Linked DNA regions of Homo sapiens: region 1 is linked to region 2. The links come from fine-mapping of genetic effects on gene expression. A gene starts in region 2. The other region holds a variant in brackets. All regions are shown on one strand. Distances are between the middles of the regions. Region 1 overlaps LINC00842 (long intergenic non-protein coding RNA 842). Region 2 holds the start of GPRIN2 (G protein regulated inducer of neurite outgrowth 2).

Evidence for each region. PIP is the estimated chance that this variant, and not a neighbour inherited with it, causes the effect.
Region 1: its variant is the best candidate, but not a certain one, in a credible set for the expression of GPRIN2 in cerebellar hemisphere (GTEx, PIP 0.87).

What each region holds. Positions count from the first base shown.
Region 1 is chr10:46,399,967-46,415,021 of GRCh38, forward strand. The region is part of intron 1 of LINC00842 (long intergenic non-protein coding RNA 842); the gene reads left to right. Among named protein-coding and RNA genes, the nearest start is that of LINC00842, 9.1 kb to the left of the region's middle. The variant G/T (reference allele first, on the strand shown) is at 7,855.
Region 2 is chr10:46,549,873-46,564,927 of GRCh38, forward strand. It overlaps GPRIN2 (G protein regulated inducer of neurite outgrowth 2), which reads right to left and starts at 6,786. Exons shown (of 3, transcript NM_001385282.1): 1 at 6,626-6,786; 2 at 4,713-4,823; 3 at 1-870. The coding sequence starts at 864. RefSeq lists enhancers at 6,117-6,822, 7,528-8,233.

The DNA.
Region 1 (15,055 bases), 150 kb before region 2:
TTCACTTGTATAACATTCTTCCAGGGGCAAAATTATAAACAGTGAAAACAGATTAGTGGTTGGCAGGCGTTAGAGGCGGTGGTGGGGAAGTGTGACTACAAAGAGGTAGCAGGAGAGATCTTGGGATGATGGGATAGTTTTGTGTCTTGGTGGTTACAGGAATCTACACATGTGATACAATGTAATAGAAGAACACACATTGTGCTAATGTCAGTTTCTTTGTTTTGATATTGTTTTGTAGAATGTAAAACGTAAACAGTGGAGAAACTGGGTGAAGGATATTGGGACCCCTTCACAAATTCTTGTCAATCTATGATTATTTGAAAATTTAAAAGTCTAAACATACATAAAATAAAAACCTAAAAGGCAAAAAAGTAATGCACGCACTTGATAAAAATCAAGTAGTACAAAAGAGTAAATGGTGAAAATAAATCTCTGCACCACTCTAGAGACCCCAGCCAAAGTCCTCTCCAAACTCTCTCACAGTTATTAAGTTTCTTGTATATGCTTCTAGAAATTCATCTTGCATATGCTTCTAGAAAATCAAGTAGTACAAAAGAGTAAGTGGTGAAAATAAATCTCTGCACCACTCCAGAACCCCCAGCCAAAGTCCTCTCCAAACTCTCTCACGATTGTTAAGTTTCCTGTATATGCTTCTAGAAATTCTCTAGGAATACGCAAAAATATATGTACTTTCCCTACTTCTCTAGCTTTTGTCTAATGCTAGTCTTCTTTCTATTTTTAATTATATGTATTTAATATATCTTTAGGAAAAATTAATACTTTTTAACAGCAGTGTAAGATTTCATTGTGAATGTACCATAATTTATTTAACCAATCTCTACTCATTTAATCTGTTTTTGGTTGTTTAGGCTGGTTTCGGTAGCTTGTTATTGGAAGTTATTGCAATAAACATTCTTATATTACTTTGTATCATCATAGGATAGACTCCTAAAATATTGTGTTTAGATCAAAGGGCATGTGGAATTGTACTTAAGATAGATTTTGTCAAGAAGTCCCCATTCTCATCAGTACAGAAGGAAAATACCAATTTCCTAAACCTCTTACTAAGACAGTACATCTTCAAAATTTGATCCTCACTCATCTGGTGGACAAAGTATAGTAATTCAGTGTTTTAGTTTGACTTCCCATGATGACAAGTGAAGCTTTAAACATGATGCTTTTTATATATTTAAAGGCCTTTTGTGTCATTTTCCTGTGAACTGTTGGCTCAGGTCCATCCTTCAGTGGAGTTTAGTGAATCTGCCTCATTTCCCTAATCAATTCTGTCTCTTACCACTGGAAAGGAATACCACAGTTGTTTACCCATTCGTTGACGGACATTTGGATTGTTTCTACTTTTCGGGTGTTATGAATAATGCTGCTTTGAAAACACTTGTACAAGATATTGTGTGGATATAGGTTTTCAGTTCTCTTGGGTATGTATCTAGGAGTGGAATTCCTTGGTCATATGATAATACTACACCCAACTTTTTGAGGAACTACCAAACTGTTTTCCAAAGTGACAGCACCATCTTATGTTCACACCAGCAATGAACGGGGTTTTCAATTTCTCTGCATCTTCACCAACACTTCTTATTGCCTGTCTTTTTCTATGAAAGCCATCCTAATGGGTGTGTAGTTGTATCTTATTGCGGTTCTATTTGCACTTTCCTAATGACTAATAATGTCAAGCATCTTTTCAGGTGCTTTTTGATCATGAGTATATCTTCTTTGGACAAATATTTATTCAAATCATTTGCCCATGTTTTAATTAGGTTATTGTCTTTTATTGCTGAATTGTTAGAGTTCTTCATATATTCTGGATACAAGTGGCTTATCAAATTTTATATATATATATATATATATATGTATATATATATGATTTGCAAATACTTCTTCCCATTCTGTGGGTTGCTTTTTGACTTTCTTGATGGTGTCCTTTGAAGCACAAAAGCTGTCAATTTTGATAATGCCCCACTTATTTTTTTTTGTTTGGTCACTTCTGCTTTTGGTATTATATCTAATAATCCTTTTACCAATCCAAGGTCATGAACATTTGCCTCTATGGTTTTATAGTTTTAGCTCTTACATTTAGAACTTTGGTCCATTTTGAGTTAAGTTTTGTACATGATGTAAGGTAAGTGTCCAGCTTCATTCCTTCACATGTGGAAATCCGGTTGTCCCAGCATCATTTGTTAAGGCTTTTTTTTAATCCTCTTGAATTGTCTTGACACCTTTGTCAAAAATCAGTTAACCATAAATGTGAAGGTTTAATATTGGATTTTCAATTCTATTACATTTCTAGTATTGGGCTATCTTGATTACTAGATGTTGGTAGTAAGTTTGGTTTTCTTTGGGGTTTGGGGGGGTTGTTTTGTTTCATTTTGTTTTTGAGATAGGGTCTTGTTCTGTTGCCCAGGCTGGAGTGCAGTGCCTTGATCATAGGTCACTGCATCATAGACCTCTTGGGCTCAAGTGATCCTCCCACCTCGGCCTCCCAAGTTGCTGGGACTACAGGCACACACCACCACACCCAGCTAATCTTTTTTTTATTTTTTGTAGAGATGGGGTCTCATTATGTTGCCCAGGTTAATCTCAAACTCTGGGCTCAAGCAATCCTCCCAACTTAGCCTCCCAAAGTGCTGGCATTACAGGTGTGAGCCACTGCACCCAACCTGTATTAAGTTTTTAAATCAGGAAGTGTAGTCCTCTCTCTTTCAAGATCATGTTGGCTATTCTGGGTCTCTTGCATCTGCATGTGAACTTCTGAGAAAAAGGCACATAATCTTTCAATCAAGATTGCATTGAATCTGTAGACCAATTTGGGAAACATTGACATCTTAACAATATTAAGTCTTCCAAATCCATGAACATAGGATGTTTTTTCATTTATTTAGGTCTTCTTTAATTTCCTTCAGTGGTGTTTTATTGTTTTCAGTACGTACAAGTCTTAGACTTATTTGTTGAATTTATTCATAAGCCTTTTATTTTGTCTGATGCCATTGTAAATGGAATTCTGTTCTTAATCTTATATTCAGATTATTCATTGCTAGTGTGTAGAAATACAATTGTTTTTCATATTGTTCTTGTATCTGCAATCTTGCTGAACTCATTTATTAGTCGTAATAGTTATTTTGTGAATTCCTTAGATTATGTCATCTGTAAATATAGTTTACATCTTTCTTTTCAATTTGGATGCTATTTTTTAAATTTACATACTTATTTGCATAATTGCCCTAGCTCAGATCTCTAATACAATGTTGAATAGAAGTGGTGAGCATGGACTTCCTTTCCTTCTTACTGGTCTTAGAAGGAAAGTATCCACTCTTTCACCCTTTGGGATGATGTCAGTTGTGGTTTTTCATAGATGTTCTTTATTAGATTTCATAAATTCTCCTCTATTTCTAGTTTTATGAGTGTTTTATCATGAAAGGATATTGATTTTGTCAAATGTTTTTTCTGCATCTATTGAGATTAGGTGGATTTTATCCTTCATTTTATTAATGTGGTGTATTAATTAGATTTATTTTATTATGTTAAACCAACTTTGCATTCCTGAAATAAATTTCACTTGATTGTGATACATAATCATTTTTATATGTTTCTAGGTTTAGTGTGCTAGTATTTTGTTGATAATTTTTGTATTAATATTCATGAAAGATATTGCTGTGTTCTCTTAGAATGTCTTTTGTTTTGGTATCATGAGAATAATGACATCATAGAATGAGTTGAAGTTTGTTTCTTCTATTTTTGGAAAAGATTGTGAAGAATTAACAATAATCTTTTTTAAATGTTTGGGAAAACTAATCAGCGAAACCATTTGGTACTGAGCTTTTTTGTGCATGGTGAGTTTCTTAATTACTAATTTAATCCCTTTACTTACTAAGGTCTATTGAAATTTTCTATTTGTTCTTGATTCAGTTTTTGTAGTTCCTGTCTTTCTAGGAATTTTTCCATTTCACCTAAGTTAAAATTTTGCTGTCTTACAATTGTTTATAGTATTCCTTTATAATCCTTTTATTTCTATGAGGTGGTAGTGGTGTGCCCTATTTCATTCTCTAAACATTATTAATTTAATAATTTAATTCCCTATACATTAATAATTTAATAATTTAATGTATAGGGAATGAAATAGGGCACATAACTTTTTTCTTCTCAGTCAAGCTAAAGGTTTACCAATTTTATTGCTCTTTTCAGTGAAGCAATTACTCTTGTTTTTTCCCTTAGTGTTTTTTCTATTCCCTGTTTTATTTATTTCCACTACAATCTTTATTATTTTCTTCTTTCTGCTTGCTTTGGGCTTAGTTTGCGCTTCCTTTTCTACTTTCTTAAGGTGGAAGTCTGGGTTATGGAGATCTTTCTTCTTTTTAATATAGGCATTTACAGCTATAAAAGTCTCCCTAAGTATTGCTTTGACTGCACCCCATACACTTTGATATGTTGTGATTTTATTTTCATTCATTTCAAATAATTTTCTAATTTTCATTGTGATTTCTTCTTTGACCCATTGATTATTTTGGAGTGTGTCATTTAATTTCTACATATTTGTGGATGTCCGAAATTTCTTTCTGTTTTTGGTTTTGAATTTCACTCTGCTATTGTTAGAGAACATATTCTATATGATTTCAATTATTTTAAATTTACTGCATTTTGTTTTATGGATGAATATACATGTATGTGTTTTCTATTGCTGCCATAACAAATTACCACAAATTTGCACCTAACACAAATTTATTATCTTGTGGTTCTGAAGATCAGAAGTCTGACATGTCTTATTGGGCTAAAAATAGGAATCTGTGTGGTTGTATTCCTTTGTGGAAATTCTCGGAGAGTTCCCTTGTTCATTCGAGTTGTTGGCAGAATTCAGTTCCTGCAAGTTGTAGGACTGAGATTCCCACTTCCTTGCTGGCTGTCAGCTGAACTGTTCCCAGCTTCTAGAAGCTACCCACATTCCCTTATTAATAGTCCCCTTCCTCCATCCTCAAAGGCAGCAATGGTGGATCAAGTCCATCAGTTTAGTAGTCACTTAAACCTTTCTCACACCTCAATTGTCTCCTCCTCCTTCCATTTCATCTCCCTACCATGGTTAGGAAAGTGTCTCCACTTTTAAGAACTCATGTATTTTGATTGGGCCCACCCAAACAATCCAGGGTAATCTCCGCATCTCAAGGTTTATACCCTTAATCATATCTGCAAAGCCCCTTTTGTCATGTAATGTAACGTGGTTCCAGGGATTAGGGCATGGATATCTTTGGGGGCCACTATTCTTCTCATGACAAGATTTATTCTTGAGAACATTCCATATACACATATAAAGAATGTCTATTCTGTTGATGGTGGTGGAGTGTTCTGTGGGTAACTACCAGCTCTAGTGGGTTTACTGTTTTTTTCAGATCTTCTATATCCTTGTGGATCTTCTGCCTAGTTGTTCTATCCGTTGTTGAAAGTGGAGTAATGATGTCTCCAACTATAATTGTTGAATTTTCTATTTCTCACTTCAGTTTTTGCTTCATGTATTTGGATCTCTGCTATTAAGTGCATATATATTCTTAATTGCCATGTCTTCTTAATAGATTGAAACTTTTACAATTATAAAATGTTTTTCTTTGTCTCTTGTAATAATTTTTGTCTTAAGAGTCTATTTGGTCTACTGTTAGTATAGCTAGCCACTCCAGCTCCCCTTTGGTTACTACTTTCATGGATTATCTTTTTCCATCCTATTACTTTCAACCTATTTGTGTCTTTGAATGTAAAGTATGTCTCTTATAGATAACAGTTGATTCATTTTTTAAAATCACAACCTCTGCATTTTGATTGGTATGTTTACTCTATTTACATTTAATATGATTTACTGAAAAGATAGGCTCTACACCTTCCATTTTGCTATTTTTATATGTCCTACATCTTTTTTGTTTTTCTTTTCCCTCATTACTGTCTTCTTTTGAATTCAATTGATATTTTCTAGCATATCATTTTAATTCTTTTGTTTGTTTTACCATATATTTTTAGTTATTTTCTTATTCTTGCCCTGGGGATTATAACATTTTATCATAAAACAATCTAATCCATATCAATCCAACTTAATTTCAACAATATATTTAAAGATTGCTTCAATATAGGTCCATTTCCTGCCCCCTTCCTTTGTGTTAATATTATCGTACAAATTACATCTTTATACATTATAAGCCCAACAACCCAGTTTTATAATTACTCATTTATGTAGCTATTTTTAAATCAGATAGGATAAGAAAAGAATTACAATTAAAAATACATTATACTGTCTTTTTAATTATGTAATTACCCTGCAGTGCTCTTTATTTCTTTGTGTGGATGAAGTTACCATCTAGTGTCCTTTCATTTCAGCCTGAGAGACTCCTTTTAGTATTTCTTGTAGGGAAGATCTACTCATGATGAACTCTCTCATTTTTCATTTATCTGGGCATTTCTTCTTTTTTTTCAAAGATACCTTTGCTAGATATAGAATTCTTGGTTGACAGTCATTTTCTTACAATACTTTTAATATGTTATCCCATTGCCTTCTTGCCTGAATGGTTTTGATAAAAAGTCAGTTGTTAATCTTATTGAGGAATTTGAAGCTAGAGTGTATATGCTGAGTTATTTTTCTTTTGTAGCTTTCGAGATTCTCTTTTTGTCATTGGCTTTTGATAGTTTGACTCTGATGTATCTAGGTATGGATTTCTTTGTTTTTATACCACTTGTAGTTCGTTGAATTTCTTGAGCATGTAAATTAATGTTCTTCATCAAATTTGGGAAGTTTATGGCAATTATTTCTTCAAATATTCTTTCTGCCCCTTTATCTCCTCTTCTTTTGGGATTCTCATTATATACATATTGGTATGCTCTCTGAGGCTCTGTTCATTTTTCTTCATTCTTTTGACTTTCTGTTCCCTGGATTGTATAATCTCAATTGACCCTTATTCAACTTACTGAATCTTTTTTCTGCCTGCTCAAATTGGCTGTTAAGCCCCTCTGGTTAATAATTTTTTATTTCAGTTGCACTTTCAACCCAGAATTTTATTTTTTTCCCTTTTTTATATAATTTTCTATCTCTTTATTGATATGCTGTATTTGGTAAGACATCATTTTCATGCTTTTTAAAATTCTTTAAACATGCTTTCCTTTAGTTGTTTAAACATGTTTTTAAGACTTGTTCTAAAATCTTTGATAGTAAGTCCAATGTCTGGGCTTCCTCAAGAAAAAGTTTCTAATGGCAGCTTTTTCCCTGTGAATAGGTCACACATTTTGTTTCTTTGCATTTCTCATATTTTTTTCTTAAAAACTGAATGTTTTAAATAAAATAATGTGGTGTCTCCAAAAATCAGACCTCACCCCTCTTCACAATTTGTTGTTGCTTCTGTTTGTTGTTGTTGCCGATGCTGCTGTTTCTCTGTTTAGTGAATTTCCTGGACTAAGTTTTAATGTATACTTTTTGTCATGTGTAGCCACCGAAGTCTTTCCTCAGTTTAGTTGTCCATTAATTTTTGGACAGAGATTTCTTTAAATTCCTTGCACAACTAAATCTACCTACCTTTGCTGGGAAGCTTTGTTTGTGTTGAGCCATGCCTTCGATGCTTCAGCAAGCAGCTGACAACTCTGCCTCAGAGTTTACTTCCTGCTTGCACAGAGCCTCAAAGCCAAACAAAAGTTAAGCTCTAGTTAGATCTGTCTTGGACATGTGTACAACCCTGCACGTGCACATGGCCTTCTAGGTTCTTAAGAATATGTCAGAGCTTTTCCAAAGCCTCTATGAATACCTCATTCCCCAGTTTTTCCTTGTAACTGTTTTGGTCAGCCTCTTATTAGCCCCAACTGGTACTGCCATCTCAGGCA[G/T]TTGCAATGTCAAACAATTTTTGCTGATTGTTTTTGACAGATTCCCTCAGGATAGGGCTGTTCACACAGACTAAGCTCCAAACCATGTTAAGCAAAGACAATCCCTGAGAATGTGCCTTTTCCAGGGAGCTGTCAGACAGATCAAATAGTAACAACTTTCTGAGGATGGGATTTTTGGAGAGCTCTAAACCTATTCTGTCCTCCCCAGTGGCTACCAGGCTGCTGGTTTTCACAGCTGTCATGGTTGTGAGAATGTTAATTGTGTGTGTGTGTGTGTGTGTGTGTGTGTGTGTGTGTAAGACAGAGGTTGTCTCTGTGTTGTCCAGACTGGTCTCAAACTCATGGACTTAAGCAATCCTCCCATTTCAGCCTCCCAAAGTGCTAGGATTATAGGAGTGAGCCACCATGCCTAGCTGAGAACATTTATGTTCAAGTCTATCATAGAGCTTGGAAAAGAAGACTACGAATAAGGCAAGTTAAAACACCACAAAATTTGCTATTCTTACTGAGATTCAGCTGTGTTTCTTGAATAAATCTAACTTGGATTGCTGAAAGCCTTTGGTTAATTTCCAGGACTCTGAAAATGTTAATTTTGACATTTTTGCCAGTGCTCTCATTGTTGTTAAGGAAGGATTTTCAGAAGTCCTTATTCTGACATTCTGCAAGTGTTTCTCTTGGTTTGAGTTTTCATGTGATTGTTTGGGGTAGTTGTTTTTATTTTTGTTGTTGTCTTGATTGGTTTTTGGAGAGATGGTTTTCTACTGGATACTCCTAGGATTCTTTTCTTTGAAGGCAAACATTCATTTTGTTAGGATCTGTCATCTCAGCATTGACTTCTCTAAATCAATTTACCCTTCGGTCAGAAAATTCAAGTCTTCCTTTATTTCAGGAAAGTTGTTCTGAATATTGAGTCTAAGTTTTTTTCTATTCCATAGTTCAGGTTTCCTAACCAGGGGACAGAATGTCCTCCCCTGCACTGAATGGCCTCTGCCTTTGTCTACTGAAGACTGCCTGAGTATCACTTGCAATTTAAAACAGGGCCTGTCTGTAGAGCCTTCTCTGTACCCAGGACAGTTTAGAGGCGTGTCTGTGTTTCCACACCAATAGTAATTATAGTAATAATGATTACTACAAGGTGAGCATCTAATGCTTTGAAATCTGATATCATTTAATGACCCCAGTTACCCTGTGAGGTGGGTATTATCTTCATTTGCAGATGAAGATACTGCAGCTTAGTCAGCAGACTAAGTCACCTAAATGCTCTGTCAGAAGCAGAATTTGTACTCAGGAATGGCCAACTGCAAAGTCCATGTGCTTGAACAGTATGGCATACTGATACATGCACCTGCCATGACCAGAACACAATACAGTGATCTGGCAGCACTTCGTGGCTCACCATCTCTGCTATACTGATAACAACTTGAGGGCTGGACCTACTTATCTTATTCAACAAGGACCCTCTCAGAGGTTAGGGTTGCCCAGTGCAAAGATAGCAAGTCATGTGACACATGGGCCACCTCACCCCTCCTGCAGCCATTGATAACTTTCTTCTTTGAACATGGCATTCTTTCTCTCTAAGCCCAGTTAAGAATTCAGAATCCTTCTAGGCCCAGTTTTTAAAGCAGCCACCACCAATCTATTGGTGCTGACATGAATTCAAAAGATACTTTCTATCCCTTATCTAAATAGTTCATAAGATGATGAGGCTGAACTATGGAACAAATGTAGTCCGTCAGAGATTTCTAGAAAAAAAAACCAACTCTCAATAGTCCTAGAAGTTTGGAAATGAGTATTAATCCCAGGATAATCCAGACACATCTTGTCTTATGGCCTGATGCCAAGTGATGTGGCCCTTATCTAATAGCGCATTTGCATTTTAAATGAGTAAAGCTGGTTAAACCTCTTTTTCCAATTTCAGCTATTATTTTATCTACAAGGGCCTCATAGACATTCACTCCACCCAACAACCACAGAATATACATTCTTCCTATCTGTACACAGAACATATTCTCAGATCAACCATACGCTGAGTCATAAAGCAAGTCTCAATAAATTTTAAAAAATTGAAATTATACCAAACACACTCTTGGACCACAGTGCGATAAAAATAGAAACTAATATCAAGAAGATCTCTCAAAACTACACAAATACATGGATATTAAACAACTTTTTCCTGATTAACTCCTAGGTGAAAATCAAAATTAAGGCAGAAATAAAAAAATCTTTGAAAGTAATGAAAATGGAGATACAACTTAACAAAGTCTCTGGGATACAGCCAAAGCAGTGTTAAGAGGAAAGTTTATAACGTTAAATGCCTTCACCAAGAAGTTAAAACAATCTCAAATTAACAGTCTAACTTTGCACCTAGAAGAACTAGAGAAAAAGAGCAAACCAACCCCAAAGCTAGCAGAAGAAAATAAATAACTAAAATTAAAGAAGAACTTAATGAAATTGAGATGCAAAAATCCATACAAAAGATAAATGAAACCAAAAGTTGATTTTCAAAAAAATAAACAAGACTGAGAGACCACTAGCTAGATTAACAAAGAAAAAAGAATTTCCAAATAAGTACTGTCAGAAATGACAAAGATATTACAATTCATCTTCATTTGCAGATGAAGATACTGCAGCTTTGTCAGCAGACTAAGTCACCTAAATGCTCTGCCAGAAGCAGAATTTGTACTCAGGAATGTCCAACTGCAAAGTCCATGTGCTTGAACAGTATGGCGTACTGATACATGCAGAAATACAAAAGATCCTCAGAAAATACTGTGAGTAATTCTATGCACACAAATTAGAAAATCTAGAGGAAATGGATAAATTCCTGGGAACATACAATCTCCCAAGATTGAATCAGGAAGAGACTGATACCCTGACTAGACCAATATCAAGCTCTGAAATTAAACGAATAATAAAAAACCTACCAACGACAACAACAAAAAGCCCTGGACTAGATGGATTCACAGCTAAATTCTATCAGACATACAAAGAACTGGTACCAATCCTACTGATTAAACCTCTTTAGGTTCTGCTTTTTGTATTGTTAAAATCTTCATTTTTGGTTTTCTAACAGTCTCTGATTCAAACATTCGTTACCAATAAACAATCCAGGTAGCCTCACCCTGAGTGGCAGCCTGGCTGGGTGAGTTCTAAAAATGCCCAAGACCTCCAAGACTAGGTGAGATCTGAAGTAATGAAATGCCTCCATTCACTAAAGGCCTGAAATTGTCCTGACTGCCCCAGTCCCACGGACCAAGAAGAGCCTTTCAAGCTGTGATCCCAATACTTGTGGCTGCTGTGAGAATAAGGAAAGCAGCCTAGGCCTCCAGTGGAAGGATCAGATGTTTGCCCTTCATACCTCAGAGAGCCTTCATCCAAGTAAGATGGGTGGTGAGGAGCTGTGGATGACAGCATGAAGGATGAGGACTGATGCAGCAGCCATAATTAGATTATAGGTTTCCATGGGATGTGCCATGACTGCTTACAAATGGGGCCCAGCCATGGAATTGAGTTATCAACTAAGCTGATTCCTGAGGCACAGATCATCCTGTCCTCCACAACATGATTAAAGACTACATGATGCTCAGGAAGACCTCTGCAGCTGTGTGCTTGGAAGAGTGTGTTTTTCCTGCTAAAGCATAAGAAAAAAGAGACCAGCAATTATCTTAGGCCTTGCAGCATCCTTTCTGGTCCCACAAGTTTGAGAAGGCAGGTGTGTGTGTGTGTGTGCATTTGTGTTTGTGTGTGTGCGCACGTCCACATGCATGCATGATCCTACAATGGAAGTGAGTACGCAAAAGTTGATTGCCTATATACCCTCCCCACAACCAGGTGTATAAGAGTATTCTTTGAGAATGAGAAAGCAGGAAGGAGCACATCCCACACCTTAGCATTCATGTAGTCAATTAGGAACTCCTGAGCTCCCATGACATGCTAGACCCTGGGCTCAGCACTGGATCTCAGACATGTCCCAAACTGGGCGATGGAAGTGGTGGGAAGCAACCACTCATGGACAGCTTCCCGTGTGCCAGGAGTGTGCCAGCATTGACATTATGCCGTCTCTCACTCCTGCCCTCCATCACATTAGTGATTCTGCCATGAGTGACTCGTTCCTTTGGGTTCCTGTTAAGTTCCTGTGGAGGGGTCTAGCCACAGCAGGGGAAAGAGCACCGAGGGAGCTTTTAGGAAACTCTGCTCCAGGTCAGCTGTGTGATGCTGAAAAAATGGCTCACCCTCTCTGGACCTGTTTCCTCTTTTGCACAATAAGAGGGTGGTGTTCTCCAAGGTCTCCTTGAAAATGCGACTTATCCTTGGTCATCACTTTGCAGAGGGCAGGTCCTGTCCCCAAGCCCACCAGAGTGGAGCTGGGAAAAGTTCCATGGTGAAGAAAAGGCAGGGGACACAACTCTGAGAGTCATTCCTTTGAAGATTGAGCCCAGAGGGCTCAGTTTCTGGATTGCATGGGGCACTTTGTCTCTCTCTGCTGGAGCCACGCACCCCTGGTGCAGTAGTTTCTGCCCTGCCCAGACTCTGGTCCCAGAAGGTTGACATAATGAGGAGGGAATGAGCTTGCCAGCTCTGCCATGACCAGCAGGCTGCCTTGGGCAAGTGCTTCACTTCCCTGAGCCTCACTTCCTCTGCCTCATCCCTTCTCAGAGACCACTCCTCATTTACCATCCTAAAGTCTGACCCGTCCTGACAACCATTATTCTCTCTCCATCCCCTGGTTTTTCTCTTTAGGACAGTTACTGCATTCTCTATCTCTTGTTGTTTCTTAGGTGGAGGAGGTACCTGCCTCCTCCCTACCTAGAACGTGAGCCTAGTAAAGGGATGGGCCTCACCTGTTTCAGGTTTGACCTCCAATGCCCGTCACGTAGAAGCTCAACACCATTTCCAATGCCAGAAGTGACAGGACAACAGCAACAATAGCAATATTTCTGTACCACTCCCCTCACTTTCCAAAGAGAAGTAATTCCCAGCTTGGACCTTCCCTTGCTGGGAGGGGTGCCCAGGTGTGGCCTCTCTGTGACCTTGGACCCTGGCTCCGGCATATGCCAGCCTGGCCTTTCCCCAGGGTAGGGAGCTGGCACCCTGGGCATTCCCCAGCCAGCATCCAGCCTTCTTGGGCAGGGCCTTTCCACACCATTCCTCCCAAATCCTCACTGGCCCACCCTGGAACAAATGCAGGCGGAAGCTCGCATCCCCACCTCTGCTGTTTCTGCTGGGTCCCCAAAGAGCTTTCTTTAGGGAAAAAGAAAGCAGGCCAGTGCCTGCTCCTTTTAGACCCCACAGTGGGGCATGGGGTGGGCCTTGGTTGGCCTTAATTTTCCATTCACCTGAGGAGTGGCTCAATCTCACTCACTCCCATTGCAGGTGGATGTCAGCCAAACTGGATGCATAAGGTTTTTGTGATTTAGGAGTTGCAACAGGGGAGATAAAATGCCTAGGAATGTCTTCAGTTGGAAAAAAGGGGCATGATCCTCACATTCTGTAACCTGAGCACTTTATCTCCTCTCTCCCCTTCCTTCACTGATACAAGAAAGGAGACTCCAGCACTAGTTTCCTCAGTCCTTCTGCAGGGCGGGGCTTCTCACGGCCTCAAAGTCATGGAGAAGAGTGTGCACAGGACACCTCACTTTAAGCAAAGCCCATAGACCGTATTTGAGAAAAGGAGTTAAATAAAGAGGCAGCCACCAACAAACAAGAGCCCTGTGGTCACTCAGGTCCCATAGACTCTAGAGGTCAAAGGGCCTCCGAGCATTTGAGAATCAGAGAGGGCAAGTAACTTGGCTGATATCACATAGCACGAAGGTGGCAGAGCCAGGATTCTACCTGCTGGCCTCCCAGATGTCTTTCCTGTTGGACCCTGCTTGCTGGCCACTCCTGGTGGGGGTCACTCCACCATTAGTGTGTTCGTCAAACTGACAGTTGTGGTCCAGATCCCTTGCCTCTGGTGTGCCCAGCACCTTAGCTGGCACCTCCCTCAGCAAACCCAGCCTTCGCCATCCTCTCAAGCATACTTCCCAGGGCTGTTTTGTCCATTACGGTCCCAGAATATAAGGCCTTTGGGTTTTTTCAGGGCCTGTGAAAAGGTTTGAAACATGAAAAACATACTGGCAGTTCCAAAATTCTCAAATAAAACTGTAGAAATGCCTTAGGAATTAAATATGTAATAAGATGTGAACACTTCATTACACACCTACAATTAGTCACATGCCTACGATATGTGAATAATGTCAGGTCAGCTAGTGAACTGTTATATAGTAATTGCGCATCACTTATATAGATATACACAAAGTGCACTTACTGACTTGGATGTGTGTGTTCATTGTTTGAAGTGGCGTGGATGGAGGCTCCAAAAGATAAAAGAATGTAGGGGAGGTGACTCTTCAAATGGCCCTCACCCACCCCTTACCCTCAGCTCACCCACCATGAAGCTTCCCCTTCCAAGGAGGACACACCTCCTTTCCTAGAACATTCTTCAGTGCCACAAGCTGCTCAGTCAGCCCTGATTCTGGAGTCTCCAGTGAGCGAGGCCTGGGGTGGCCCCAGCGGGATGAGCCACACTCCCCACAGCACTCAGCCTGGATGTGGCACTGGCTGCACATAGCAAGAGGCAGCTATTGGACACCTGCTCGCCACAAGTTCTGTCTTATCCTCCCAGCAACACCGAGTGAGGGAGGGAGTGTTAACCCACCATTCACCAGGTTTACCAGAGACCAAGCCCAGGCTCTCCCCACTGCACACTTTTAAAAGGGTCCTTTCAGCTTCCCATTAAAGTGGTTTGTTCCTTTGTTCCTCCTCTCCTGTTCTTCCTAAGACATCATCACTGAAATTTAAGCTTATAAATTTAAAATGGAGTAAATCTATAAGGGAAAAGCATTAAAAAAAGAGAGAAAGATGGCTTACTAATGGATGAGAGTCCAACACATTTCTGGAAGACAGGGTTCATGAGAGGCCTAGCACTGTGGCTCCCACCTGTAATCCCAGCACTTTCGGAGGCTGAGGCAGGAGGATCGCTTGAGGACAGGAATTCAAGCCTGCAGTGAGTTACCGTCACACCACCCTACTCCAGCCTAGGCAACAAAGCGAGACCCCATCTCTTAGAAAAGAAAAAAGAAGATTCACAAGAGGGTGTGGCAATATTAGACAGGCTAAGCCCCCAGGTGTACCCAGTGTAACCACAGGGGCCCTTCGGTGG
Region 2 (15,055 bases):
CCCAGGGAGCCCCCCAGACAACCTACAGTGGATCTTCACCCCATGCTGAGCCTGCAGCCCAGACTCGCTCACTGACGCCACTAGTTTGGGAAAGGCCAGGATCCCTGTGGCAGGTAGGGCATGGCAGCAGCCACCAGCCCTCACCTCCCTCATGCCACAGAGTAGAGCAGCTGGGGGCAGAGCATGGCAGGTGGTGGTAGCCAGCTGTTCAGCAGCTTTGGGCTCAGCCTGGGCACTGCTGCTGTGGGCAGTTGTGTCCCCCAGGTCTAGTGGTGGCACTGACAACTGACTCGCCCCCAGCATCCAGGCTGAGTTAGAAGTCTCATCCTCAGGAGCCAGGTCCCTTTCCAGGCCTGCAGGGGCCTGGCCACCCTGGCCAGAAGTACCACCTGGCTGCAGCTGAGCCCTGTGGACAGGGCTGCTGCCAAGGGCTGAGCAGCTGAGACTGGCCTTCCGAGCACCACTGTGTCCCCGCATCTGGGTGCTACGGACCAGGTCTGAATGGCTCCTCTGCATAGCAGCAGCACTAGGGGCCCGCAGGCGACACAGGTCACTGCCGCCCATGGTGGACACATTGCCCACAGTGCTGCTCCACCAGTGGCCTCCAGCACTGGGTCGCGCCTTGGGGCCAGAGGCCCGTGCTGGCTTCATGCTCTCAGGCGGGTTCCCCTCTTCCTCCGGGGCCTGGGGTCTGGTGCTGGCCTCGCCCAGCTGGGCCTGCCACACGGTGCTGCTGGCAGTCTTGCGGAGCTCTGGCCTCTGTTCCCGGCCTTCACCCAGCAGGCTGGAAGAGCTCTGGGACAGGGGCTGAAGGCGGGGGCTCAGGGGTGCCCAGGGACCCGGCTCGGGGCGGCTGGAGCTCATGGCTGCCTGCAGAAGAGAGAAAGGGAGGGAGTGGAGTTGAGTTGGGTGGCAGCACCTAAGCCGATTCTACTATGAACTCCCACAGTGCTAGGTTCACCAGGGAGCCACCTTCAGTCCCAGCCTGCCTGACTGGTCAGAACCATATGCAAGGCAGTGAGTGACAAGACACCAGACACTTCAAATCAAGGTCATCTCACATTAGACACAAGGATGACACTGCAAATTATCTCATCATCAGTCTCAAGCAGTTAGAATCTGCCCTAGGGTGGGGTCCTGGAGGCCGCCACTCTATCAGCTCTCAACTCTTTACTGGCTGGTTTGTGTGGGAGGGGAAGGGAGAGAGCCAAATCTGCTGGGGCTTTGGGGGTGAAACTGCAGCCCTAGGGGGTGGGGCTGTGGGATAACAGCTCTTGGTCAACCAGCACGGAAGCACTATGGCCTCTTAACGGGCACAGCTGGACAGGCCAATACTGGGCTACTTCCTCCTGGGACTGGCAGTATCCAACTCACTGTGGACAGGGTCTCCTTGGTACAGAGTGGGAGCTCAGAGAAAGTTCACAGGACGAGGGAGCAATGACCAGAGGACACTGAGAATCACCCTGGGCTTCCACAACCACCCCCATCCTCCTTGGCCTAGCCTTGCTGAGCTGGCATGTCTCTGGGGTTCCCTGACTCCTACCTCTAGCTCCAGGGGCAAGGAGAGGCCCCATGCATCAGCTTTTTCCATGAGGGACTCATTCAGCATCTGGTCATTGATTCCACAGCATCTCCTGAGCCCCTACTGCGTGCCCAGCTGTAGGGCTAGGGAACATGGGATTCATTCAGACCTTTCTGTACCCCTGGGGACGGTGCAGCAGTGAGATAAGATGCCCACCCAGTACCATCAATCAGACCTATCCTGCCTGACATTTAATCCCCTCTTGCCCAGTGTACCTGCATCCTCATTGTCCCCCACCCTCCGTACCATCGCTGTCACTTCCCCCAGCCATAAAGACCACCCTGGACCTGGCAGCTGCAGCCTAGAGCCAGTTCTGGCCCTTTCCACTTCTGCATCTCTTCCTGGGGCCCCTTTCCCGACCCTCCAGCCAGGCAGCCTTCATCCCTGACTGAGCATTGGGCCTGCATGGAACAGTTTGGCCAACTGTCAGCCTCCCCACAGGCCTGAAGTTGGCAAAGCCTGGCCTGTGGCCTGCTCCCCTCTGGCTGTCCAACACCCAGCACTGACCTGATGTGTCGTCGGCACTCAGAGGATTATCTGCTGTGTGCCTGACCAAGAGAACAAGCAAATACAAGAACACACCCACAGAGGAGGGCACTGAGTGCCAAAAATGGGGTCTGAGGGAGGGCACCACCAAGGCAGGAGAGCTCACGGAGGGTGAGAGATGAGAAAAGGCTTCCTGGAGGACCAGCCACGTAAGTCAGGCCTGGAGTGAGAGAAGCAAGAAGGTGTTCAGGTGGAGAGCGGAGTGGGCAGGAGGAAAGAGGCCATGTGTCCAGAGCATATGAGGGGAGCAGTGGGGTCAAAGTGTCTGGGCCACCTCGGCCCTGGCCACAGCAGTGAATTAGGGAGATCACTCTGGGACTCCTTGCCAGGCAGGAGAGGTGGGAGAAACAGGGTGGGGACAGGAGGCAGCAGCTGCATTTGGGCAATCCCAGCCCTGCCCTCCCAGCCTAGGCTGATAAAGACTTCCAGGCAACAACCTCCCCGACCAGGTGAGCAAGGCTACCCGAGAGGAAATTCGGGAAGGGCTGTGGGACTCGGTTTCTGTGTAATTACAAATGTCCTGGCAGCCCAGCACTCAGGAGATGGCTGGTGGCTGCTGAGCCACAGTGAGGATGATACTGGTGCTGTAGTCCCTGAGACTCCAGCTCTGCACAACTTCCTGCGATGATGGAAAGATTCTACCCTGTGCTGTCCAATAGGTAGGCACCAATGGCATGTGGGTACCAAGCACTCAGCAGGGGGCTACTGCAACTGAGACACTGAATGTTTAAGTTTTATTTGAATCTAACTGGCCACATGAGGCTAATGGCTACCGTACAGGACTGTGCAGCTCTGAACACAGCCCCGGCCTGGTAAGGATGTCCCATCCCAGCTGCTTCACGGGGCTGAAGCCAGACTTGTCCCTGGGAGGATCAGGAAGAGGAGGAGTAGCCAAGAGAGAAATCTGACCCAGACCCTGCCCTCAATGAGCTCTAAGATGGACATACAAACAAAGGAGGGCAATAAAGCCCGTAACAGCGATGATAATAACAGCTGCCAGGGCCTGATCACTCGCCAAGGGCCAGACACGTGCCACATCCTTTGCATACATTGTCTCATATAACTGTGCAAGCAACCTCTTGAGACAGTCATTATCTCCATTCTACAGACAGGAGAATTCCATAAGCTCAGAGAGGCTCAGTGACCCCCAAGGGCACACACCTGTGGGGCAGCTGAGCTCCTCTCCCCTTCGAGCACTGAGCAGGCCTATGCCTCGCAGCTCTCACCCTTTTTACTGATCTGGCCTGGCCCTGCCAATCGTGCTCATGACATGCCATGGAACAAGTCACTGAGTGGATCTCCACCTGCCCAACATGCTTCTTAGCAGCTCCTGAGGCTGCAAGAATGAGGAGGGCAGGAGGTGTTCCTCCTGACTGGGACAGCTGTGGTCACTGCCAGCCCCTGGCAGGGAGACAACCACTCAGTTGCAGGTCCAAGACCCCAGGGAGGCCCCATCTGGACATCCACACAGCCTCTGGCCAAACCCCACCACCCTCCCAGGGAGGGGGGCCATAAACAGCCAGGCCAGCAGCCTCTGGCCCCTGAGGAGACAGGTGGAATGAGGTCCTCAGACCCCCACCAAGACCCACTGAGAAGCCATGAGCAATGAGCATCCCACTGTGCCTGTCTCACCAGAGGGCTGCCCAGCACCCAGGGCTAGTCATCACCCAGAGACCCCCGTGTGGGCTATGTATCTATTGGTTCCCTTCCCCATTCCCCCTCCACAAGTGGCAGGTGACAAAACTGAGGCCTGGAGCAGCTCAGAAATGTCAAAGAACACACAGCTGAAAGTGGCTAATTCAGAACCCCAATGGATTGGCCTGGCTAACTACAACCTGGCCTTCCCAGCTCAGAAGGAAGGAAGGGCTCTGAGGGGAGTACTGGGGGAAAGAGGCTTCCACACTGCCTGTCACAGTGCTGTGGACTGGGCCAGAGGAGGGGCCTCCCAGGGAGCCAGGGGTGAGGAGGAAGGGGCAGGGCTCTGCTTCCAATGGGGGCTCTTCCCCTTCCTGTGCATGTACTCACAGGTGGACCCCTAACTTCTTTGAGCCTCAGTTTCTTCAATCTGCAAAACAGAAATAAATCCCCACCCTGCAGGGTTGTTGTGAAGACCAAATGTGACAGCATGTGCACTGTCTGCAATAGTGTTTGTTAACAATAATCTTCTCTTTCCCCTCCCATCAAGAGCAGCTTAAGTTCATGGTATAACAAGTATTAGTACTGGGGGCCAGAGAGGCCCTTTTCAGAAGCCATCAAGACACCCCAAAGGTTAGCCTCCTCTAGCTTCCCATCCTCGCTACCTTCATCCCATCCTAGGACCAGGTCACCATCAGTGTCCCCAGTCTCCCTATCACCAAACTAGGTTTCCCAGAGCCTATTTTAAATGTTAACCTAGGAGGCTACGCATGCATACAAGTCTAGAGTCTGCACTTTAAATGCCCAGAATGGCACACCCACCCTGCCTTTATAACAACACAGAAGGTTCTGGTTTTGCCCTAAAGGGACCCTCGGAAGATCTTTTAGGACAAGATAAAGAACAGGCATACAGAAGTATCCAAGACCTCTAGTATTCTTTGAACGATACCTTAATGTTCTCTCTCCTGCCCCATTTGATGCCGAAGTTGCTATGGTTGTGGCCGATGTCCCGTGGCCAATGCCAGGCTGTCCTGCTGCCTCAGGTTCCACCTGTCAGCAACTGGAAGATCAACCACCTATGTAGCAATCAACCAATGTCATTTTGAGTAAAAGCCCCCAGTTCTCAGACACTTCCAGACTAGCCCAAACATAGAGACCTTTGAGTCAACGTACAGAGTCCAGCTCCCGCCATGCTGCCACAGCAGAGGAGCCCAGGCCTTTGGGATATGCCCAGGGGACTACCAAGACCACCACAAGTGGGCTCCATCTCAGACAACACTGTGGCATCCATCTAAGTCCCCTCTTGGTTTTGTTCGTTCGTTTGTTTGTGAGACAGAGTCTCGCTCTGTCTCCCAGGCTCGAGTACAATGGCTCAGTCTCGGCTCACTGCAACCTCTGCCTCCTGGGTTCACGTGATTCTCTTGTCTTAGTCTCCCGGCAGCTGGGATTACAGGCGTGCACCTCGGCGCCCAGCTAATTTTTGTATTTTTAGTAGAGATGGGGTTTTCGCCATGTTGGCCAGGCTGGTCTCGAACTCCTGACCTTAGGTGATCCACCTGCCTCGGCCTCCCAAAGTGCTGGGATTACAGGCATGAGCCACAGCGCCTGGCCCAAGTCCCCTCTAGTTAAGTGGCAAGCATTTGGATGATGACTTATGTGTCCGGCAAAACCAAAACAGGAAAAGCAAACCTATATGATCAGGCAGGAAAACTGGTTCTATGTTAAAATATGGACCTTACCTCTCAAGGACCAGGCAGGAATGCACACAGCACAAACCCCCATTGCACAGTGGGGATACAGCACCCTCCAGGAGGTGGTTTAATCCACCCCAGAGTGAACGGGGCCTGATAGGAACACTCAGGGCCAACTCTGGGCAAAGCAGCAGGCAGCATTCCTAAAGGGAGGGTTTGGAGGAGACAAAACCTGCCCTTCACAATGAACGTGCCTTAAGGGCTACATGCCCCGGGTCACAAGCTGTGCCAGGAAAGGGTTCTGGGGTAACTGTGGGGTCAGTGGCCCCATGGATGAGGCTCTGCTCACCAGGAAGAGGCCTAGGCGCCCAACAGCCCCTGAGCTTCCTCCCCTGGGGAGGATTTGCCCACAATCCCTGGGGGGCACCTAGGTGGAGAGGGTGCCCCGGCCTAGAAGCAGCCTAGGCGGCCGGTGTGTCCCTATCTGCACGCTCACAAGCACTCATGCCCCAGCCTGGGACACACAGGCCCGTATGCAGTAACAGCGTCTACCCAGCTGCACTCTGCACGCCAAGCACAGGCCGCCCCTGCTGCGGGGCCAAAGGCCTGAAAGCACCGCACCACGCAGCCTCGCCCAGAATAGCTCCCCTCCCGCCCCTCCTGCACAAAGCCCACCCGGACTTAGGGAGAAGGGGGCTCAATACGGGCCCGAAACGAGGCTACAGACCTTCTCAGGAGCAAAGGCAGCGACTGCAGGCAAATGGGGCTGTGGGCCGGGGTAATGATGCGGGACAGGAGAAGCCAAAGGGCAGCAAGGCTGGGGGCGGGGTAGGCGGCGCAGTAGGCTGAGGGAGGGGAAAAGGAAGAAGGGGAGAGGGAGGAGCGATGGCAGCAGGGGTGGAGGCCGAAGGAGACAGGGTCCCGGACAGACTTGTGAAAATGGGAGGATGGGCAGAGGAGACGTAGAAGAGGGGACAGGACAGGACAATGAGAGGCGGAGCGCGGGGAGTGCGATGCGGCCACCGGGGGCTCTGGGCGCTGGGCAGGGGCCAGGATGCCGGGGGTCTGAGCGCAGGCAGCGGGAAGGAGTGGGTTCTGAGGCTCAGCAAGGGGGAGGTGCCGCCCACCACGCCCCCCGCCCCAACGGGAGCGCGCGGAGCCAGCCTCTCACCCTCTCGCCCGCCGGGGCCGCGCAGGCGGGGGAAGCGCTGCTCCTGCGGCCGCCACAGGTGCCAGGTGCCGCGGCCCAAGATGGAGCCAGAGCCGACCTGGCCTGGGCGCGAGACGCCGCCCGCCGCCGTCGGCCCGGCCCGCGGAGCAAGCGCCGGGTACAGGGAGGGGCCAGCGGGGCAGCTGGCACCGGGGCGGCGGGAGGGGCGGCGGGCGGAGACCTCGCTCACCTGGGCCCGTGCCACTCTGGAGCCTGCCACCGCCCCGCCGCGGCCCGGGATCTGCGTCCGCGCGCCCCCACCCCTCCTTCCCGACCCCTCCTCAGGCCGGGTCCCCACTGTCCTCGGTCTTTTCGGCCCCGCCCGCACCACGACCGCCTGTTCTCCAGGCTGCCCAGCGAACCCCCAAGACTCCCACTTCCCCGACGCAACCCCACCGTCCCGGGTGTATAGGCGCAGCTCCCCACGATTCTCCGGCCCCAGACCCAGCCCCTCAAGTCCACCTCCTCGTAGCCCCACCCCCTCGCTCCAGTGCCCCTCGCTCCAGTTCCCCCTCCGCACCACGCCCCGCATTGAGGTCTCCGCGCCGGCGGCTACCCCTTTCCTCTCGCCTTCTCCATCCTAGCTCCGCCTCTCACAATTCTCTGGCTCCAGATCCCGCCCACGAGACCCCGTTTCCTATAGGGCCCTTTCGTCTGGGATACCAGGCCTGGTCTCCACTAGCCTCGGACTTTCCAGCCCCAGGTCCCAAATCCTGGACCCACCGTCCCATCCTCTGAGCTCCACTCTCATGGACCCCAAACCTCACTCCAGTCCTTTGAACTCCATGATCCTGGCCTGGCCTGGCCCCCGGAGCCCTCCATTGCCCCTCAAGAGCCCAGCCTGGTAGACTCCTTCCCTAGGGTTGCATCTCCAGCCCCGCCCCTGAAGACTGGTAATCTACCACCCCTTTCCCTGCCCACGTGCCCCTACCCAGCCCGACTTGAGGCCTTCAGTCTCCCAGCCGCGGACCCCAACAGCGGGCGAGGGCAGTGACCGTGCGGGGATGAGCCACCTCCACTGGAGCCCGCCTTCTTCTCCGCAATTCCCCGCAGCACCACAGCGCCTTCCCGGTCCCGTGACGCCGGGGGCCAGCCCAGGCCCTGGGATCGCCAGGTTCCACACTATGAGGCTGAGGACCTGGGCCTACGGTTCCCTCAATATCCCCCAGTTTCCACAACCGCTGGCCAGCTTCAGGGCGCAGGACAGGCAGCCCCGGCCTCCCGCCACTCGCAATAGATTCCTGCTGTCCACCCAGGGCCACGTGGTATGAGGCACCTGTACTATCTCTGGGCCCCAGTATCACATAATTGGGTCCCAATGTTGGCACTTCTCCGTTGTCCCCTGTGCCGGGACCCCCAACTTGTTGGCCCAGCCCTGTGCTGAGAGGCCTGCGTTCCTCCCTTCCAGTGCCCAGGAGCCAACAGTATCTCTAATTCTCCCCGTTTGGGTAGCAAAGGACCTCAGTCTGCCCAGAGAGACTCAGACTGCCCCAGGTAGCCCTCTCCAGCGAGGTCTGAGAGCAGCTCTCAGATTCTGGCAGATGGCTGCCTTTGGCCAAATGCCCACAGGGGTGTCGACGTCAGACCCCAGGCTTGGGCCTCACCATCACACACTGCCTGGTAGGGGGATCCTGCTTAAAGGAGGCAAATAGGGGATTTGTTTGCCGAGGCCACTACCCACTTCTGCCCCTGTCCAGGAATTAGGACCTCTGCTTCCACATCTTAGGCATCTTACTCATATTCCCTCTTTAGTGAAGTCAGCTGAGCCCCAAGAAGGGATGGACTGCTTGTGGTTACACTGAGAGTTGGTGCCAGATCCAGGCCCCAAACCTGGGGCTCTCAGCTCCCAGGACATCTCAAGAACCAAGAACCTCACTGTGTGTTTCAAGGAAGCCTTCTTGGGGCTGGGTGTCAGGAGATGTCTGCCATGCAATCTACCTGTGAACACAGCTGGCTGGCCCTCACCCCAGGGCATCACTCCTTGTCCAACTGGCCCCCTTCTTCCATTCATGCCCTGGCAAGGAGGCTCCCCTGGCTGTGGCAGCTGTCCAGGGAGAACCCAGCATGGGGAGTCACACTTAAATTCCAATCTCAACTCCCCCACATATTCACTGGCTGTGCAACCCCACACCCAAGCAAAACTGTTCATCTCTCTGGGCATCAGTTTCCTCATCTGCAGAGTGGTAGTAATTATACCTACCTAACAGGGCTGGGGGAAGAGGGTGTTTGTGAACGTGTCCCGTGGAGTGTTATCGCTGCTATCAGTCACTTGATCAAATATTTACTGAGCTCCTCCTGGGTCAGGTCCTGGAGGTACAAGCTGCACTGCATGGGGGAAGGAAGGGATGGATATGTGTAGATTGCTTTGGTAGAGAGCAGCTCAGGCCTGAGGACCACATGGGCCAACTACCATTTGCTGAGACTCTGAACCCTGACAGAAGAGGAATGAGTGTGGGGTGCACTCAGGGGTCCAGCGGGGGCACACTGGGATGTTTGAGGCACCACGTGGACAGGTGGGTTGCACATTACAGGATTGGAGGGGTTTTTCTGTTTGTTTTTGTTCCTTGAGATGGAATTTCACTCTTGTCACCCAGGCTAGAGTGCAATAGCGTGATCTCGACTCACTGCAACCTCCGCCTCCCGGGTTCAAGAGATTCTTCCGCCTCAGCCTCTTGAATAGCTGGGATTACAGGTGCCCATCACCATGCCCAGCTAATTTTTGTATTTTTGCTAGAGGTGGGGTTTCACCATGTTGGCCAGGTCTCGAACTCCTGATCTCAGGTGATCCGCCCCCTCTGCCTCCCAAGATGCTGGGACTACAGGCGTGAACCACCATGCCCAGCCAAGGACCGGAGTTTTTCAGAAGTCTGGGTGTCATGGACATGGGGTGGTTGCTGAAGTCACAGGGGTGGATAAGGTCTTCAGGGAAAGAGTAGAGTGAGGAGAGGGCTTAGGACCCATTTGTGAGTCACCAGGTGACAAAGGATGGAGGAGCACCCAGAAAAGATAGTGGGAAACTGGGACATCATGGTGACACAGGGCACTTGGAGCAAGCTCCTTCAGTGAGGTGGCAGAGGCAGAAGCCACTGGCGTGGGTTGGGGGATGAGCTGGAGGAGAGAACCAGAGATGGTGCATGTGCAGATGCCTCTTTTAAACACAGCCATAAAGGGGAGAAGAAAGGTGTCACTTGGGAAGGAATGTAGGGTCAAGAGAGGCATTTTTTTAATGCTATTTTTTTTTGTTTGCTTGCTTGTTTTATTATCTGCATCCTGTAGTAGGTTTCTTTTATTTCAAACAACAGAAAGCAAGTCTGGTTAAGTTAAGCAAAAAGGGATGGCCAGGCGCAGTGGCTCACACCTGTAATCCCAGCACTTTGGGAGGCCAAGGCAGGTGGATCACTTGAGACCAGGAGTTCAAGACCAGCCTGGCCAACATGGTGAAACCCCATCTCTACTAAAAATACAAAAAATGAGCCGGGTATGGTGGCGTCTGCCTGTAATCTCAGCTACTTGAGAGGCTAAGACAAGAGAATCAGGACACTTGAACTTGGGAGGCGGAGGTTGCAGTGAGTCAAGATCGCACCGCCATTGCACTCCAGTCTAGACAACAGAGCAAGACTCTATCTCAAAAAAAAAAAAAAAAAAATTAGCTGGGCAGGGTGGCATGTTTCTGTAGTCCCCCTGTTCCCAAGGCTGAGGCAGGAGGATAGCTTGTAGCCGAGAGGTGGCGGTTGCAGTGAGCAGAAATTGTGCCACTGCACTACAGCTTAGCAACAGAGCGGGAGTCTGTCTCAAAAAAAAAAAAAAAAAAAAAAAAAAAAAGTTAAGCAAAAGGGGATATGTCAAAAGATCGCAGGGATCTCCAGATGCTAATGCTTTCAGCCATGTTCTTCAAGGCAGGAGCCAGGTGACTCCAGATCCCAACAGGAGGAACCACTTGCTCCCCAGTGCCACCTCCACAGAAAGGATTCCTGTCCATGGTCCTTGGTGTGTCTCTCAGCTCAAGATTCAAAATCCCAGTGGAGTGGCAGTTTGTTTGGCCGAGCTATGGCCACATGCCCTCTGCCCTTGGATCGACATACCTGGAGGAATACCTGGCCCAATGCCTCTCTAGGATCACCCACTGCCCCACCGAGACTGCTCACAAGACAGTTTTCCCCAGCAGGGAGGTTGAAGCCTGAGTGACCAGAAACAAGTATCCACTGCACATTGTAACGAACTGAGCACATTTGACTGCTAGGGAGAAGTACCCATTGAGAAGGAGTGGACAGGAGATACAGGAGCCAGAATTGCTACTGGCAATAAGGTCCTCAATGGGCTGAGATTCAGGAGTTCAATAGGAGGAAAGAGGTGACTTCTTTATGTAATAGCAGAGCAAGAAGAAATGATGGGGGTAGTACTGAGGTACCGTAGTCTCTCTCCTCTTGGGAAAGAAAGTTGCTGGCAACCTTAAATCTACATCCTCACATCTCTGGATCTAAACAACCCACAAATCAAGTCTTACTGCCCCTACTTGACAATCCTGGACCAGAGAGAGAGCTCTTCAATTGACCAGCCTGTGTCACTGCTCTTCCCAAAATGGTGGGGCCCTGCAGTAGGGCTGACAGTGGGTCACAGAGACTAGTGAAGAGTGGTTCCCCAAAGGAAAGGGCAAGACACTGTTGCCAGACTAAGGGAACCTGATACTGAGCTGTCCCAAAGCACAAATTACCGCTGGGGACAGCCTCTGTGCAAGCTTTGAGGAAATGCTAAGTTGGGATGTATCAATGCCTAAGGAAGAGAGAGCTTTGATTCAGTTAAACAGCATCTGCTTTTCTAGCAAAATATCTCTAGGGTACAAGAGACCCCTCTAGCCAAAAGAGCCATAAATGAAAAGGCTGTCTTTTTGTCTGACAAAAAGACACTGACTCCCTGGGACTTAGCATATAATAGATGTTTGCTGGCTGGCTGGCTGGCTGGATGAATGAATGAATGAATGGAAGGCAGTTGATTCAGAAATGCCTATTACTACCTCAATTTAGTTCCACAGACATTTTCCTGAGTCCCTAATAATAATTATCAGCTGCAAGCTGACAATATAGGCTAAATCAGAGGTGCCTTGGCCCCAAAGCCTACATGATGGGGGATTCAGGGGACCTGAGACAGATGCCCAAAGGACAATTAGGTCACAAGGATTGAAGGGAATAGAAGGGGCTGGAGTGCTCAGAGGAGAGGCATTGTAGTAGACATCTGTTGCTTTTTCAGCTCCCCACAATCCAGCCCCCATTTCATTTGGGGGATCATCCCGAGACAGAGACTGCTAATTGTCCCCCAATACTTATTGTCCCCTTCTATAGTAATAGAATTCCTCTAACTGAGTACATAACTGCCCAGAATAATGACCACATTTCCCAGGCATCGTGCACCCAACATGCTGTAGATTAGGTTCTCAGCAGTGAGATGTTAGCAGAAGTAATTTTTGCAATTTCTCGGTCATGCACTTCAGAAGAAATGTGCCTCGCCCCTTTCCCTCTCCCCTGGTAGGAATGAAGTCATGGTGTGAAGCCAGTTTATATCAATCAGATGAAGCTAAAACCCTAAGGATGTCAGAGTGACAAAAGAGAAGGAGCCTGTGTCCCAACACACTGTGGTTGCCTATCAGCCCTGGACTAGCTCTAACTAGGTTTTCCATGAAAGAGAAATTAACCTCCAGTCTATTTCAGTCACTATTTGGGGTGAGTGCTCTCTTGCAGAAGGAAAGCCTGTATACTAATTATTAGTGCTGTATACTAATTATTAGTAAAGGCTGTATACTAATTATTACCAAGAAGGGCTGTGTTGCTGGTAACAAAACTGAAAACATATTTTAAATGCTATACATAAATATGATGATCTGGAAACCCTGTTTATGCCATGCCATAGCAGTCGATCAACTGATTCCTGCAATACCTTGCAAAGTCAGCTCTTGCTCTAAAGGAAACAGTTGGAAATTTCAGAATGCAGGTGTTTGCTGGATGCTTCTTGCCACTCTCAACAGAGTCCTACATGACCCAGAAGAACGTGGACAGAGCTAGCCCGAGGAAGGCAGATACTGAAGAGAATACAGCAGTGCTGAAAGAAGCTCCCTTTGCCTATGGGCTATAACCTCAGTTTAAAAAGTTTTCAGACCTAAAAAAAAAAACTATTGCTTGTTAAAAACTCCATATTTGATAGCTTGATTCTTATATCTTGAAAGATTTTTAAAGTAGAGTGTAAATATAACTGATGTTATGAAATTCTGTTTCATGTTCTGTAGAGCAGTTATATATCATAATGTAGGCAGAAATCAGCCATCATATCATATCATATCATATCATATCATATCATATCATATCACATCATAATGTAGGCAGAAATCCGCCATCATATAATTGTGAGCAGAAATCAGCCATCATATAATTGTGAGCAGAAAAATACCTAATTGGATTCTGTAAATGGGTATATTTTGAATTATGCTGTACAGTGCTTGCCCAAAAAAATACTGTGCCTGAAAATGGCATCAATTTATTAATAAAAAATATGATTTAAGTGATTTTCTAACAACATTTCAAAGGCACCTTTATGGTTCTCAAAGTGTTGCCATATAATAATATTCCTTTAGAATAAAATTATATTTATTTAAAAAAATAAAGAGAAAAATCTATTGCTTCTGTACCACAAACTGAGGCAGATATAGAATAATTTTCTGAAGAAGCAGGATTAGCAGGAGACGAGACTATGGACCCTAGTCTTTCTCAAACACTTGATTACGTTTCTCAACCTGACAATGACAGCCGCTCGGCCACAAAGACCAGATCAAGGAAGCTGCCTTCCAGTCCAAGTTGAGTGTTTTCGCTGGTCTCAGGTTGAGAGGGAGGTGAATAGATATAACATACAGGCTGATAAATAAAAGGCCACCATTTTTAGGCTTAAATACTGCTAATCTAAAGGAGGTTGAGCATCACTAAACCAAAAACCCAGAAATCCAAAATGCTCTAAAATCCAAAACTTCTTGAGCACACATGATGCTCATTGGAGCATTTCAGATTTTGGATTTTCAGATTAGGGATGTTCAGCCAGGATAATGCAAATATTCCAAAATCTGAAATATGAAACACTCTGGCCCCGAGCATTTCAGATAAGGGATACCCAACCTGTACTTGCCCCAGAGGATAACTAGCCACAAATAGGCAGAAAGCCAACTGAGATTTTAAGGGGCATGTGTTACCAAAGAACCATGAGTCTGGCTGGTACAAGTCTGCATTTTTGACTCCTTAAATCAACCGACCCCTACCCACCAAACCTGCACCTGCAAAAAGTGGGCTGCAAAAGCTATGCAGCCCAGGCCCAGTGTGGTGGCATGTGCCTGTAGTCCCTGCTGCTCTGAAGGCTGAAGTGGGAGGATTGCCTGAGCCCCAGGCACTCGAGTCCAGCCTGGGCAACACAGCAAGACCTTCTCTCTAAAAAAAAATGTTTAAGCTGTATAGCCCTAAGAGGGATACACCGTTTGATGCCCTTTAGTTGTGCCATGGAAGGCAGTGGACAAAGAGGGGACCACCAAGGTCCAAAGATGTCTATCCCAGGGAATACTCCTGGAGAGAGGCGCTGTCATCCAAGGACTCTGCTCCACTCCCTGGGAGCCTTCACAATTTCTGCCCACCAGGATTTGGTGGGTGTGTTTTTCCCTCTTCTGGATGAGGTTTCCCACCATGTTTATCTTATTTTTACTGGCTGTTGCATATTGGGTGTAAGGAGGCAGGCAATGTATGTAAGGGTTCCGGGGCAACACACCATAAAGAACTGCATCCAGAAGCCTGGTGTGGTGGCTCACACCTGTAAACCCAGCACTTCGGGAGGCCAAGATGGGAGGATTGCTTGAGCCCGGGAGTTCGAGACCAGCCTGGGCAACATAGTGAGAACTTGTCTAAAAAAACAAAAATAAAACAAAAACCACATCAGATCTGATGGTGCAGGCTGTCCCTCCACAGGTCCCAGGCTTGGAGCTGGACATAGGCACTGGATGCAACTTTAGGGTTGTCTCCCCTGGGGAGGGGACACATGGAAATTTGACTGGCCAATGGGACAGGCTGGGGCTGAGATTGCTAATTGCCCCCGATCACACTCATCTCCTATGTTTAAAGAATTCTTGTTTTTTATCTGGAGATACGGAAATCCAGAAAAAAAATACTGTATTTCCTCACTTCCTAGAAGCTATATTTGGCCAAGTAACTGACCAGCAGCATTGAAGTAGGGAGAGGTGACACTTTTAACCAGAGGGGCGAGCCCTCCTCTTCCGCCTTTTCCGTTTCCACTGGCTAGGCAGTGGAGGTGATGGTGAAACATCTCACATCACAATACCTAGGGATAGAGAAGCAACAAGATGGGGAAAAAAAA